Regions from separate parts of the Homo sapiens genome. Here all the other regions are linked to region 3. Evidence: fine-mapped QTL for protein levels in blood plasma. Region 3 holds a variant in brackets. A gene starts in each other region. All regions are shown on their forward strands.

Region 1 (4,238 bases), not on the chromosome of region 3:
CAGCCCAGAATGTCAACTGTCTCAGCCTGTCCCATTCCAGCATCCCAGCCTGCACCCCCAGGACCTCCTGCAGTCCATCTTGACGCCCTCCTGCCTCCTTGCCCCCCTCCACCTCTCCAGCCAGAAGGCCTTGAGGCTGTGTGCACCGAGGCCCTGATGCTCGGTGGACCCTGGCAGGGGTAGCAGTGAGGAGGGAGGCCACATGCCCAAGGCCTCAGGCCAGCGTGGGCCTTACCTGATGCTCCCGGTTCTGGACAGATGTACCTTAAGCCACAAGCCCCAGTCAGGCTGGCTTTGCTTGGGGCCTGGTGGGCAGGACTGTCAGCAAAAGTGAGATGGGAGGGCCCAGGGTGGTAGAAGGAGTAAGGGCAATGGTACAGGCCGAGGGCTGGTGGCTGGAAGCATCGAGGGTGAGCACAAGTGTGCATGTTTGTGTGTGAGCATGTGTCTACATACGTCTGCCCTCACAGAGCCCCCTAAGCCCTAAAGACCAGGCAGTCACTCACCAGCCCCACTATACCTATTTCTCACACACCCTGTCCGTAGGTCCCTGGGAAGCTCCCACACCCCAGGACAGCACAGGGCCAGGGCAGTGCTGCTGAGTGTTTGCTGAAGTCACATTGGGGCCACCTTGATTGACGTCAATCAAGAGGCCTCCCGGGATCCAGTGTCCCCCTCCTCACCGGATACCAGGTCTATTTTTATCACTGCAGTCACTCGCCCCAAGGTCAAGGTCACACAAGGGAAAGGAGGTTGGGGGAGGGGCATGACTGGCGTCTCTCTCATGGCTGCTGCCACGGAGCCCCACCAATCTCCACAGTGCATGCCGGCACAGAGGGACACCCTGTTCAGGGCCACCCTACCATGACTGTCCCTCCTGGCTTCTGGCTTGACCCAGTGTTGGGAAGAACAGGTTGTCATTCCTGGCTCCCTGAGAGCTCTCTCCACCAGGAAGCCTACTGAGATTAGGGTCTCTGGGCTCCTGGCAAAGGCTCCCTGCCCTTTACCTGCAACCTGGGGATGGGGGAAGAGGGCGCATGAGGGGTCTCATTGTCCCCACCTCTCAGAAGGAAGTCTGTGCCAACCTAAGGCCTGGCGAGAAAGGACAATGCCACTATGGGCCGTGGCTGTGGTCACAGCCTCACCATGAGGCCTGCAGAATGCAAGCCTGGGACCTGGGTGGCCAACTCCAGGTGCATATACTCTGAATGGTTCCCAGCAGCCCTGCAAGAGGGGACTTGCTGTTCTGTTTCACAGCTGAGGAAACCACGCCTCAGAGCAGCGAAGAACTTGGCAACTAAAATGGAGCAGAGTTGGGATTTGAACCCTTGCCTCAAAGGACATGGTAGGTGTCTCTGGGAAGGGCTCATGAACAGGAGGCAAGACTTCACCGATGGAATGTAGGTCCTGCTGGGCATGCAGGGATGGCGAGGGTTCCACAGGGCTCCTGAGGAGGCAGCCAGGGCAGCAGTGGTCCCAGCCAAGAACAGGGAGCAGGCAGGACACAGGGTACGTGCTGCTATGCAGATACCACAGGTGGGAGTCATGGCTCCCTCCAAGTTTAGACTCTGAGAAAGACTTTGCAGTTGGGGAAGGGCTCCTGGGGCCACTGGTCATAGCTCCATGACCAGCTTCCTGCACAGCTTTCAGAATGTCCCCAGCCAGCTGATGCTTCAAGTTCCCTACCTAAAAGCTGAGGCCTGGAAGTGCTCTACCAGCTCTGGGCTCGGTGATTTGAACGAGACCCAGCCTGGACAGGGGCCCTGCTTCTTCTTACTCCCTATCTCATCCACGCTGGGAGCGTGTATGGACTTGGGACCCCTCAGCTGAACAAGGAAAATCCCTGCCTGGCTCCAGCTGACTCCAGGATTCCCCAAGGATGAGAAGTCCAGGAAGAAGGGCAAGGGAGAGTCCATTTCCAAAACCACTAAAAAGACAGTCCAGACTCAAACCCCAGTCTAGACTCCACCTTAGTTCTCAGCAGCACCAGAGGAGTCCTGCAGAACGTCTGACCACCATCCCTCCTGCTGCAGCCCTTCTGATGCCTGAAGCAGTCAGGGCTTGTCTGACCTCTGCACAGAAGCTTCCAGCGTCAGCTCAGTGCTCACCTCCAGAGCCTGACCTGCCTCTTGCTAGGTCCACTCTGGGATCCACTCACTTGCCCTGCTCCTATTGCCACCACCCAGCTTCCATACCCACCTTGATCTTGGAAGCATCAAACTCGACCTCCTTAGGGCGCTCAGGCTCAGGGGGAGGTGCGGGAGCTGGAGCTGCCTTGGGGGCTGCCTTGGCATCATCCTTCTTGGGCTCTGGCTTTTTGGGGGCCATTGGGGGCTGTAAGTACAGAGAGGGATGTGGAGAGAAGAATGCAGAAAGCAGGGTAGGTGAGCCGCCTCACCCAGGCCTTTATCCTGCCCGGATACCTCATGACCCCAGCCCCACCCCTGCAGTGCACAATAGGGACAGGGCCATAAAAGGATATGGCTAGGCTTAGGGGCTATTTTGGGGCCTGGGGAGGGCATTGTTCAGGCTCAGGAATGGGTAGTGGAGGAGGGATCTCCATTCCTCCCAATCACCTGTTGGGAAGGGGGAGGGAGAGAGGGGGACAAAGGCCACTGCTTAACACACACATACACACATACACACACACTCATCTGCACACCCGCACATACCCACACAGGGCCCTGCTGCCTCTCTGCAGGTCCGTAAGTTGAAGAGGTGAAGAAGGGTGGACCAAGTACATGCTACGTGTTGTGTTGGGGCCAGAAGGACTGGGATGATCTAAGGGCACCTCTGAACTTAAGCTCTCCAAAGTCCCCTGTGTCTGTGTCTGTGTCTATGACCGTGTCCATGTGGGGGAAGGCGGAAGTCAGCATGTGTCTGTGTGTGTTGTCTGTGTCTGTGTCGGGGTGTCTATGTGTCTGTGGGTCTCTCTGTGTCTGTGTTTGTGTGGAGGGGGGTCTGTGTACACCTGTGTGTATTGTCTGGGTGCCTCCGTGGTGGGGGGCTCTGTGCGTGCCTATGTGTGCTCCGTATCTGTGTCTATGTAAGGGATGGCCCGGGTGTCTGCATTTGTCTCTGTGGGTCTGGGTCTTTATGTGTGCGTGGTGTGTCTATGTGTCTATGTGAGTGTGTCTGCGGGTGTTGCTTCTGTGTGTTTATGTCTGGGTGTTTACATGTGTCTGTATGTGAGTGTCTGGTCATGGCAGGCAGCTGTAGCCCTGGCTATGGGTCCAAGGGTCTCCAGGAACCCCCACAAAGGGCAAGAGAAAGGATGCTGCTCCCTCTAGGGCAGTCGCCCCAGGCCAGTTCAGCAGCCTCCCTCTTCAGCCCCTGCTGGCCCAGGGACCAGTTTCTCAGCTTTCACCCCTAGATTCCTACTTCCCCTCTCTACAGGCCCCAGGGATGCACATTTCCCTACACACCCCAGGCCTGGCTCCCCACTGCACCCTCTGCCCAGAGTGCCCTCGCCCCCTCTGCCTGACATATTCAAGGCTTGGCTCTACTGGCCCTCTTCCAGAAAGCTCTCTCCAATGCTATTCCACTGCCACATGTTGCCCTCTGCCGACCCTTTTGGCAGGGGCTCTGAGAGGGTCTGCCTCTCTGAGGAACCCCAAGCTGCCAAGCAGGGTCTGCCCCAGTGCAGTGATGCTCATTCCCTGTTCCTACCACTCAGTGCCCACCCCCAGTGCCCATCCTGCAGTGCCCGGCCCCCAGGGTCCATCCCAAGCCCAGCCTTCAGCAGATGACAGTGACAGAGTACAGCCTGACGGGACTGCCACTTGGGGAGGTGGGAGGGCTGAGGTGGCACAAGGCTCTTCCCGCATGGGGACGCCAACAGTGGGGACATCTTGTAAACACATTGGGCTCTGTTCCTTGCCCAGCATCTGTGCCTGGGGGGTGGGAAGGAGGTGCTCCTGGTTACTTTTAAGTGCCTGGAGCCTTTGATAGAAACTTCAAAGCCAGGGATTTCCCTGGTGTGGCAAGGGGCTAAGCCTGAGGCTGAGAGGTGCTGTGGGGCCCAGGGCCTCTACCTGGCACGCCCTGCTGTCTTCCTACTGGGCCCAGTCCCTCTCATCCTGTCACTCCGCCTCACAGGGAGGGACAGCAGTCCAGGGCTGGGGCCAGCCCGCTCCTGACTGGAACACGTTCTGCCTCTCATCTGGAGGGCAGAACACCCACATCTGGAAATCTGACAACATCCGGGACTGGCGGGGGGGCAAGTTTTTCACTTTTCT
Region 2 (4,238 bases), not on the chromosome of region 3:
AGGGGATTGCAATGTACACATCTCCTTTGCATTCCCAAGGCTCAAGTCTAGGCCCGTGATGGCGCCCAGTGGGGCCGGATCAGATTGACCCAGGGGAGGCTCAGGAAGCGGATCCATGGATATGGAGAGGCAAACGAGGGGTGTGGGAGGCCCGTGTGCCCGCTGGCTGTGGGTTTTTGCACTGAGTTTTCTCATATCCGGGCTTCAGTCACTGCTGGGTCTCTGAGGGCCCCCCTGATGCTAAAGCTAAAATCCCTGGAATGGCTTTCACACCTCCTCCAGGTGGGAATCCTGGTCTGCAGGCTTCTGGCATGGGAGGGTTCCTGCCCAGGCGTGGGGATGGAAACAGAAGAGGGATGACCGCCTGCCTTGGCCTGCTCCTGTCAGCTTCTGTGGGGTCAGCTCTGTCTGGCCCCTGCCTCTCTAGAGGGTCCTGCTGGAGGTGGCAGCGTGTGTGTGTGTGGGCGTGCATGTGTGTGTATGTGTGTGTGTGCGTGCATGTGTAGGCTGTCTTCTGCCTGGATGTGAACACAGCACCTAGGTGACCATTTCTCTAAGTCCATGGCATGGAAGGTGAGCCCACTGGCTTTATTGGAGAGCCGTTGGCCTGGAAGGGGCATGTGGTGGAGGTGTCTGGGGCTCGGGCTGTGGAGGGTCAGTCTTAGTGGGCTTTTACCCCTTCTACTTCCTAGAAGTTTGCTCCTTTTGGGTGTCTGCAGTTGTGGGCATCAGGAAAAAGAGAATGGATGGCTGCAGGGTTAGCTGGGACCAAGGGCTGCCCCCTAAAGCTCCCTGGGCTCCTGCTAATCATCTCAAATGACATAATGGGACAGTCACCCTCTTTGGCTTCGTATCACTCCCTCCCGATGGAAGAAGTTCTCTTTGCACCCAAAGAAGTGGCTAGCCCTGCTCATTCTGCTCTTTCTTCCTCATGGCCCAGGAGGAGAGCTGCTGGGTACCACCCTAGGTGGAGCAAGGACCCCCCACTCTGCCCCAGCTTTCCTGGGACACGATGGCCCTGGCTCCAGTGGCTGAGAGTTAACATTCCCTGGCACCAGCCACTGGCTCCCTTCCCCTGGATGCTCTGTTCCCGATTAGCACAGCAGGCAGGGGCCTGGCGCTCGTCCCTGACCTCGGGGCCTCCAGCAACCAGACCCCTGGCTTTAGCGGATGAGCTACCAATTCTTTTTAAAGCACTGACTGATGCGTGGTATTAAGCAGGGACAAGTTTGCGGCCTCACTGCCCTTTCCCAAAGGACCAGGGTGCCTCTTCCCGGAACACTGTGTGTGCCTGCGTGGAGGGGAAACTGCCCCCGCTTCCCTCTCTTGGGGTGCAAAAATCTGGGCCAGAGGTCCCACTGCGTGGCCTTCCCTATTCCCCTCTGCTTTCCTCCCAAGCCTCCATCTGCCGAGGAGGCCTCTCCCCTTCTTCAGGAGGGAAAGAGGAATGCACAGCAGTTGAGCCAAGACCCCTCCAGGAGCTGCGATGGGGGCGGATGGTGGCTGGGAGCAGAGACACATCCTGCGGGCGGCGGGTGGCACAGGCTGGGACGTGTTCTTAGCCAGTGGCTCCACCAGCTTCCGCGAGGCCGAATCCTGCCCTTGCCAGTCATGAGCTGAGGCAACTCCTTTCCCGTCTGGGCCTCGGTTTCCTGTCAGGCACTGGATGAAATCCCTTCCAGCTCTAAGATTTGGGATCCGAGGGCTCGCTCTCTTTCCCTGCCTGTGGGGTTGGCCAAGCCGGGCTCAGCCAGCTCCGCTCTAAGTTCGTGGAACTTGCCAGCTTAGCCTGGCTCCCGCTTATCGCTGCTCCATCACAGGAAAGACTCCAGTTCCCAGGGCAGCCCCCACTCTTTTTTTTTTTTTTGCAACTTTCACATCACAGACAGCTCAGCTCTCAGAAGACCCAGGGCCACACAGAACAGTGGGATGGGGCAGGGGTTTCTGGAATCCCCTCCCATTTTCACTTGGGTGCTGCCTCAGCACAAATTTCCCAGGCTCCTTTCACAACACACAACACACATACACACAAACACACACACGTGCACACACACACACACATGCACCCACAGATATCACTCCCCAGTGGCTGACTCTTAGGAGGCATCCCTCCCCCACCCTGATTTCTGGGGGTGACTCACAGAAGCAGTGTGCCCACTTAGGAGTCTCTGGGGAGAAGATTCCTGAGGCCGAGAGGGTCCTTGTTCTCTTCTTGCCCTCGGCTCAGCGGGCACCGGGAGAAGAATGCGATCCCGGAGACTGCACCGTCTTAAATATAGCAGCACTGAGACAGTACAATGACAATGGATGAGAACTATGGCATCGGGGACAGGGGGCCAAGGGGAGGGGCCATTCCGTGTCTCCAGCCTGCTGGGCAGCAGCGACAGGTGGAGCTGTCCGCCGCGTCCCCCCACACTGCTCCTCCTCTCAGCTGGGTCCTTTCTGCCCAACCCAAGCCCCTGTTAAAATGGAAAGGAGGGAACGGCTCAGGCATGGTCGTATGGAGGGCAGATCCCGTGCGGCGTTCTCAGCTGTCGGGAGTTCTGATCTGAATTCTGCCCCGGCTGACTGGGTGCCCTGGGGAAGGCGCTCAGCTTCCCTGAACTGACTGCCTTCTGAAAAACGGAGACAGTGAGACTGGGCACCTGGACTTCATGAAGACGGTGGAAGGAATATGACCTAAAAGTGAGTGTTTCGTGCTCAGAAGTTGTCACTGGCTAAAACAGCAATGTGTGGCTCCTGGTCCCTCCACCACTCCGGTAGTTACTACACGGCCCCCGCCCTGACCACAGTCATGTGTGTGTGGTGTGGTGCAGGCAGGAGGAGCTGGGGAGCCACCTACTGCTTCACTGTGCAAACTGCTCAGGCTGCCAGAGTGTCCCCTGAAGGGCCTTCTTATAGGGTAAACGCACCTGACAGGGATAACTGAAGCACGCTCCAAGAATGACCCTGTGTGGAAGACCTGAATATGTGTTCCGAGCTAAGGAATCTGGGGAGTAGCCAACCCGTTTCTTACCTACGATGAATATCTGAGCCCCCGTCCCGTCCCTTCTGGTGGAACGCTGGCCATACAGGGGATTGAGGCCCTGAGTTTTGGGTTAAATGAAGATTGCCAGGTGGAGGTCATTAGGGGATGGTGTAAAGTGAAAATGCTCTATAAACTGCATGCTGTTTGCAAGGGGCTGAGGTTTTCCTGCCCAGTCGGCCGCCACTGGTATGTTGTCCAGCCCGCCGCCCCTGGACCATTTCTGTATGTAAGGCGGTTCTCCTGTCCAGTTCATCACCAGTGGACTCTCTCTCCTGTAGGCAAGCCCCTAACAAACCCCCACGTTCCTTCCTTTCCTTCCTTCCCTTCCTTCTCTCCCTTTCTTTTTCTTTCTTTCTTTCTTTCTTTCTTTCTTTCTTTCTTTCTTTCTTTCTTTCTTTCTTTCTTTCTTTCTTTCTTTCTTCTTTCTCTTTCCTTCCTTCCTTCCTTCTTTCCTTCTTTCCCTCCCCCCCTCCTTCCTTCCTTCCTTCCTTCTCTCTCTCTTTCTTTCTTTCTTTCTTTCCTTCTTTCCTTCTTTCTTTCCTTCTTGAGTCAGAGTCTCACTTTGTTGTCCAGGCTGGAGTGCAGTGGCATGATCTCAGCTCACTGCAACCTCCGCCTCCTGAAACCCCCATGTTCCGTTTGCTGGCTATGGATCTTTTCTTTGGCCTCTCAAACCTGGTGCCTTCCCTACTGAGGTTAATAGGTGTTCGGCACCACACCTCTTCCCACCCTTTGCCCTCTCCTGCCATTCCCTCAGTCTCAATTCTTTCCCCCTCACATTCATTGGCACCTACCCTATGCCAGACCCTAACCTACAGGGGAAGTCAGGCACTTACGACAGGAGGTGATCAGGAAGGTGCACCTGGGTCGAGTCTCAGAGGATGAGCCGGTGAGGGGAAGGCTGTACCGGCCCCTAGCCAGAGAGCACAGCTTCCCTCCCTCACCCCTTCCTGCGACCTCAGGTGGCCACCCACACTACACCTGTCACTCTTGCTGGTGCCTCAGGGACTCCTCACTCGAGAGAAGGAGAGAGAGAGCACAAGTGAACTTTGCAGGCAAAATCTGAATCCCCTGCCCTATTTGAAAACCCCTTTCTAAGCTCTTCTGTGGCTCTCTCTTACAGCATCTTTTGGGAGAGAACATTTCTCTCCCATCTTCTATTGACCCAATCGAACAAGGGCTTTCCAAGACTCATCTTCATACATTTGCT
Region 3 (4,196 bases):
CTGAAGGCCTGTATTGGGTTTGGGTGTTTTTCCTCTCCTTGTTGATTTCATGGGTTTTAGTAAAGGTTTTGTGGGTAGACTTGATAAAAGTTAAAATATTCTTAAAATAGAAAGAATTTGCCTGTAATCTCAGCACTTTGGAAGGCCAAGGCAGGCAGATCACTTTAGGTCAGGAGTTTGAGACGATTCTGGTCAACATGGTGAAACCCCGTTTCTACCTAAAAAATAATAATACTACTACTACAAAAATTACCCCAGCGTGGTGGCGCACACAACTGTAATCTCAGCTACTTTGGAGGCTGAGGCAGGAGAATTGCTTGAACCTGGGAAACAGAGGTTGCGATGAGCCGAGATCGCACCACTACCCTACAACCTAGCACAACAGAGTGAGACCCTGTTTCAAAAAAAAAAAAAAAAAAAAAAAGCAAAAAAGAAAAGAATTTATTCATATATGCATAATTACAATTGACACATTTCTTTTAATGAGACTTTATTAAGCATCACTACATATCAAGCAAGGTACTGTGCCTACAAAGATAATCAGATGGTGGTTTCCTAACATGAATTTGTTTGCAGGAACACACACAAATGCGTATTAGTTACAGCACAGTAATACTCCAAACAAAATACAGAGGGAAAAGCACCTATCTTCATGACAACCTCTAGGAAAGCTTCACAGTGCTTTTGAACTATGTCTTGAAAGATAAGTAGCAGTATAGTAGGGAAAGAAGTTAGGTAAGAATATCTCAGGCAAAGAGAACACACAAGAGCATTGTGTGTTTGTTTAGTTCTTCAAGTAGGAGTGTTGGCAAAGAAGATTTGAATGTTCACCAGGAACAAAATCCTGAAGAACAATGCTGAAGTAAAAAGATGAAGCTTTGAAGGAAGAAAAGGATATTGCTCAATTTTTCTTTAGAAACATCATTTTATTGGAAACAAAAGATAATTTAGATGGATATAAGATTGAACTCAGGGAAGTAAAGGCTGTTAAAATTGTCCAGCAATAAATTTTGGAGGTCTTTTCAAGGCATTGACAACAGGAAGGAGAGGAGACTATGAATTAGAAAAAATATTTTTATGACAGAATTCATTGGCCCTAATGGATTATTGGATATGGAGGACAAAAATAAGGAAGACAGAATGATAGGGTGTCTAGAAAGAGATACAGTTTATAGGAATCTGAGTTCCTAGATTTCACATATTTCATGTTACCTCTATACCAAACATCACTTTAATGTCCAGATATCTGGAAGTGGTTTTTCTGCCTTTTGAGCACAGATAGTTTTGTCACATTAGATAATATTTTTGGGGAAAATGGCAATGCTAAGATTGAGAAAAATGGGCTGATGGAGCATATAAAGTTGAAGACTGATCACTGGCACATCAGCTCTATCAGCTCATTTTTTTTTCCTTCCAGCTTACACTTCAGGTAATTTGTTTTTGATATCCATATGTTGTATGTTAATGCTTAGAAACAAAATTGAAATACTGCTACATACTAAATAGCATAGACTAAATATATGTGTGGTACAGATAATGTTATTACAATGTGAGGATAATACTGAAGCTAAGTTTCTCAGATGTTTATGGATTCATTGTAAAAATAAGTCATTTTAGAAAAAAATGTTTGCATTGATTGATTTATCAAGATTGTATTCAATTTAATTCTATCATCATTCTTTTGATTATTTACTATGTCTTCAACTAAATATTACATCTTGGAAATACAAAATGAGAGCAGTCCCCTCACACAGTATCTAACACACATCTACCTATCAGATGCTGTGTTAAATGGTGCAGTGCCACAGATCAGTTGAAAGTCTAATAATTAAAATGGACAGGTTAAAAAAGATCATAGATTTAAATATATGGCATATTTTTCTAAAAAATAATACTCAAAAGAAGGCTCTCCCTATATTTGAGCTTTTGTAGAGTGTCTCATGTTATTAGATTTCTCTTATTTTCTTAGTTATGACTAACAAGATAGTTTAAATTAAATATTAAATGTGATTTCAATAATGTATGCATTTTTACCATATTGCAAATCTAAGAAATATCTCCTGCTTTCTGAGATCCTGAAAGATTATTTCGTTGTTAATCTGTTACTGTTAGATACCCAAGTCCAAAGTTTAGTAAGATAATTTGTATATTTCCACATGTAATAAATACTTACCTGATTTCATTTAGTAAATTCTCAGCAATTTCTTTTTTTGACAGGTTTAGAGTTCTTGAGGGATTTTGTTTTTTATGCTCAAGGAATAAGACTTGTGACAATTGAAAAGGAGAAAAAAGTAGTACTTTAAAACTAAGATTGTTGAAATATCCAGTTTCCTTATGAATACTTAAAGAATTTTTAAGTTAAGTCTATAGCAATAATGTTGATATTATATTTCTAATAACATTGATTCTGCCATTTTTAAAACATTAAAAATAGACATGGTAAACAGTAAATTTCATAAAATATATTTTTGTACTTTTTCTGATTTTGATGTCATGTACTATTACAATAATTTCTACATTTTTCAGAAAAAAACTGGGAGAAAAAGTTCATTCACTCTGAGTAAGCTAAGGAAGTTGTGAATGGCAGATTAGCAAGGGAATATGATGGCATTATAATTTAATTTCAAGTTTATAGTGATCTGGAAAACCAAATTAGGGAAATTAACAATGCAACAATGTTCATCATCACTGAAAAGAATGAAAAAAGACAGGATAAACAGAAAGATGCCTATTAATATTAAGAGTGTTGAAATATGAAGAATGGGATGTTCAATAAAGTTAATATTGAATATGATAAATACATTTTAAAATCTCATTGAGAAAAAATGTTTATAACCTTTATGTTCAGATATGTGTTCTTGTTAAGCATATATAGAAATTACAATTTAATATTAAGTACTTTCACAGAATCATATGGCATGCTACTAGAACACAAAAGGTATCACATCTTTCTGCCTAGGAAACTGTGGAAAGACTCACAGATTTGGTGAGCTGGGATCTATATGAATAAGGAGGAAGATTAATCAGGTTAAACAACAACAACAAGAAAACCTGACTTTCTGAGGAGGAGAAAACTACTTTCTCTCATTCCTAAATGGGTACTAAGTTAAAAACAAAACACTTGGTTGTGAGAATTAAAATGTTGTGCCGATAAACGCTGTCACTTTTCAATTCTTTGAAAACCAAGAGCTAGGCTGCATATTTCATAGAATTTTTGCTAAAGTAGTCATGTTTAATTCCTTGGCCTGCTGCATATGTCACAATCCTGTAAACATCCAAGATTCAAACTTGGAGAAAGATGGAAATGTATATCTACAATGCGGTCAGAGAAATGTTTTCAGTTTTAGAGAGATAAAGCAAAAGTCCATGCAGATTTTGGATATGGTTTTGATTTGTTAAGTTCATTCCTAGAAATTACATTGTAGAATATTCTGTAGTTTATTTAAAAACCATTTAAATTCTCTTTATAATACAGAGGCTTTCCAAATTATCTTATTTAAATTTTAAAGTTAAATTCCGTTTAATTGGCTTTCTACTTATATCTGTTATCCCTTTTAATCCTTGTATCAGTCCTTGCAGTATGGCATAAGCACCATCTTGTGTTAAAACATGATAATGATATGGAAACTGAAGTTTAGAGAGTTGAGTAACTTCACCAAAATTACATGTCTAGAAAGCAGTGGAGCCAAAATTAGAATATATGCCTGTCTGAATACAAAATCAAGGCTCCAGACTATAACATTCTTCCATATTCTGATTCTGTTTTTACTCTTTTTCACAGGAATTATTATGGAGAAAAAATTGGTATCTATTTTGTCTTTCTTGGATTTTACACAGAAATGCTATTCTTTGCAGCTGTAGTTGGCTT[A/T]GCTTGTTTTATTTATGGCTTATTATCAATGGAACATAACACAAGCAGGTAAGTGCACCTGAGTTGCCCAGATAGAGAAAACATCTTTATCTTGTGCCAAATGAAGTTGTTGTTATTATTTCCCTGGCATTTCCTTCAGAATGTTTCCTTATAGCAGCAGATAATCGATATTTTCCAAAAACTACTCAAACATAACAGTTGCCTCTCACCTGGTGCTTTATGGAAAATCTGTTTTTAAAGCTGGGCTCTGAAAACTCTACTCCTCAAAGCATGACTTGACCCACTATAGAAATTGCTGCTTGATTGCCCCTTCTGTTATATGTGAGAA

Which allele goes with the higher level. Alleles are on the strand shown, and positions count from the first base shown. The strength of an association depends on the size of the effect and on how common the allele is.
For the plasma level of the protein whose gene starts at base 2,382 in region 1, allele T in region 3 goes with a higher level than allele A (moderate association).
With allele A in place of T in region 3, the plasma level of the protein whose gene starts at base 2,246 in region 2 is lower (moderate association).

What was found. PIP is the posterior inclusion probability: the model's chance that the variant is causal. Protein levels are from antibody-based Olink assays in UK Biobank. Linkage for the fine-mapping came from a reference panel and not from the study's own genotypes, which makes the PIPs less certain.
Region 1: MYL3 starts here. The variant in region 3 is fine-mapped to the plasma level of the MYL3 protein (UK Biobank, PIP 0.98).
Region 2: MYOM3 starts here. The variant in region 3 is fine-mapped to the plasma level of the MYOM3 protein (UK Biobank, PIP above 0.99).

Annotation. Positions count from the first base shown.
Region 1 is chr3:46,861,063-46,865,300 of GRCh38, forward strand. MYL3 (myosin light chain 3) reads right to left here and starts at 2,382. Exons shown (of 7, transcript NM_000258.3): 1 at 2,200-2,382. The coding sequence starts at 2,328.
Region 2 is chr1:24,109,890-24,114,127 of GRCh38, forward strand. It overlaps MYOM3 (myomesin 3), which reads right to left and starts at 2,246. Exons shown (of 37, transcript NM_152372.4): 1 at 2,142-2,246. RefSeq lists an enhancer at 2,448-2,956.
Region 3 is chr11:22,246,456-22,250,651 of GRCh38, forward strand. It overlaps ANO5 (anoctamin 5), which reads left to right. Exons shown (of 22, transcript NM_213599.3): 10 at 3,782-3,916. Among named protein-coding and RNA genes, the nearest start is that of ANO5, 55 kb to the left of the region's middle. The variant A/T (reference allele first, on the strand shown) is at 3,869.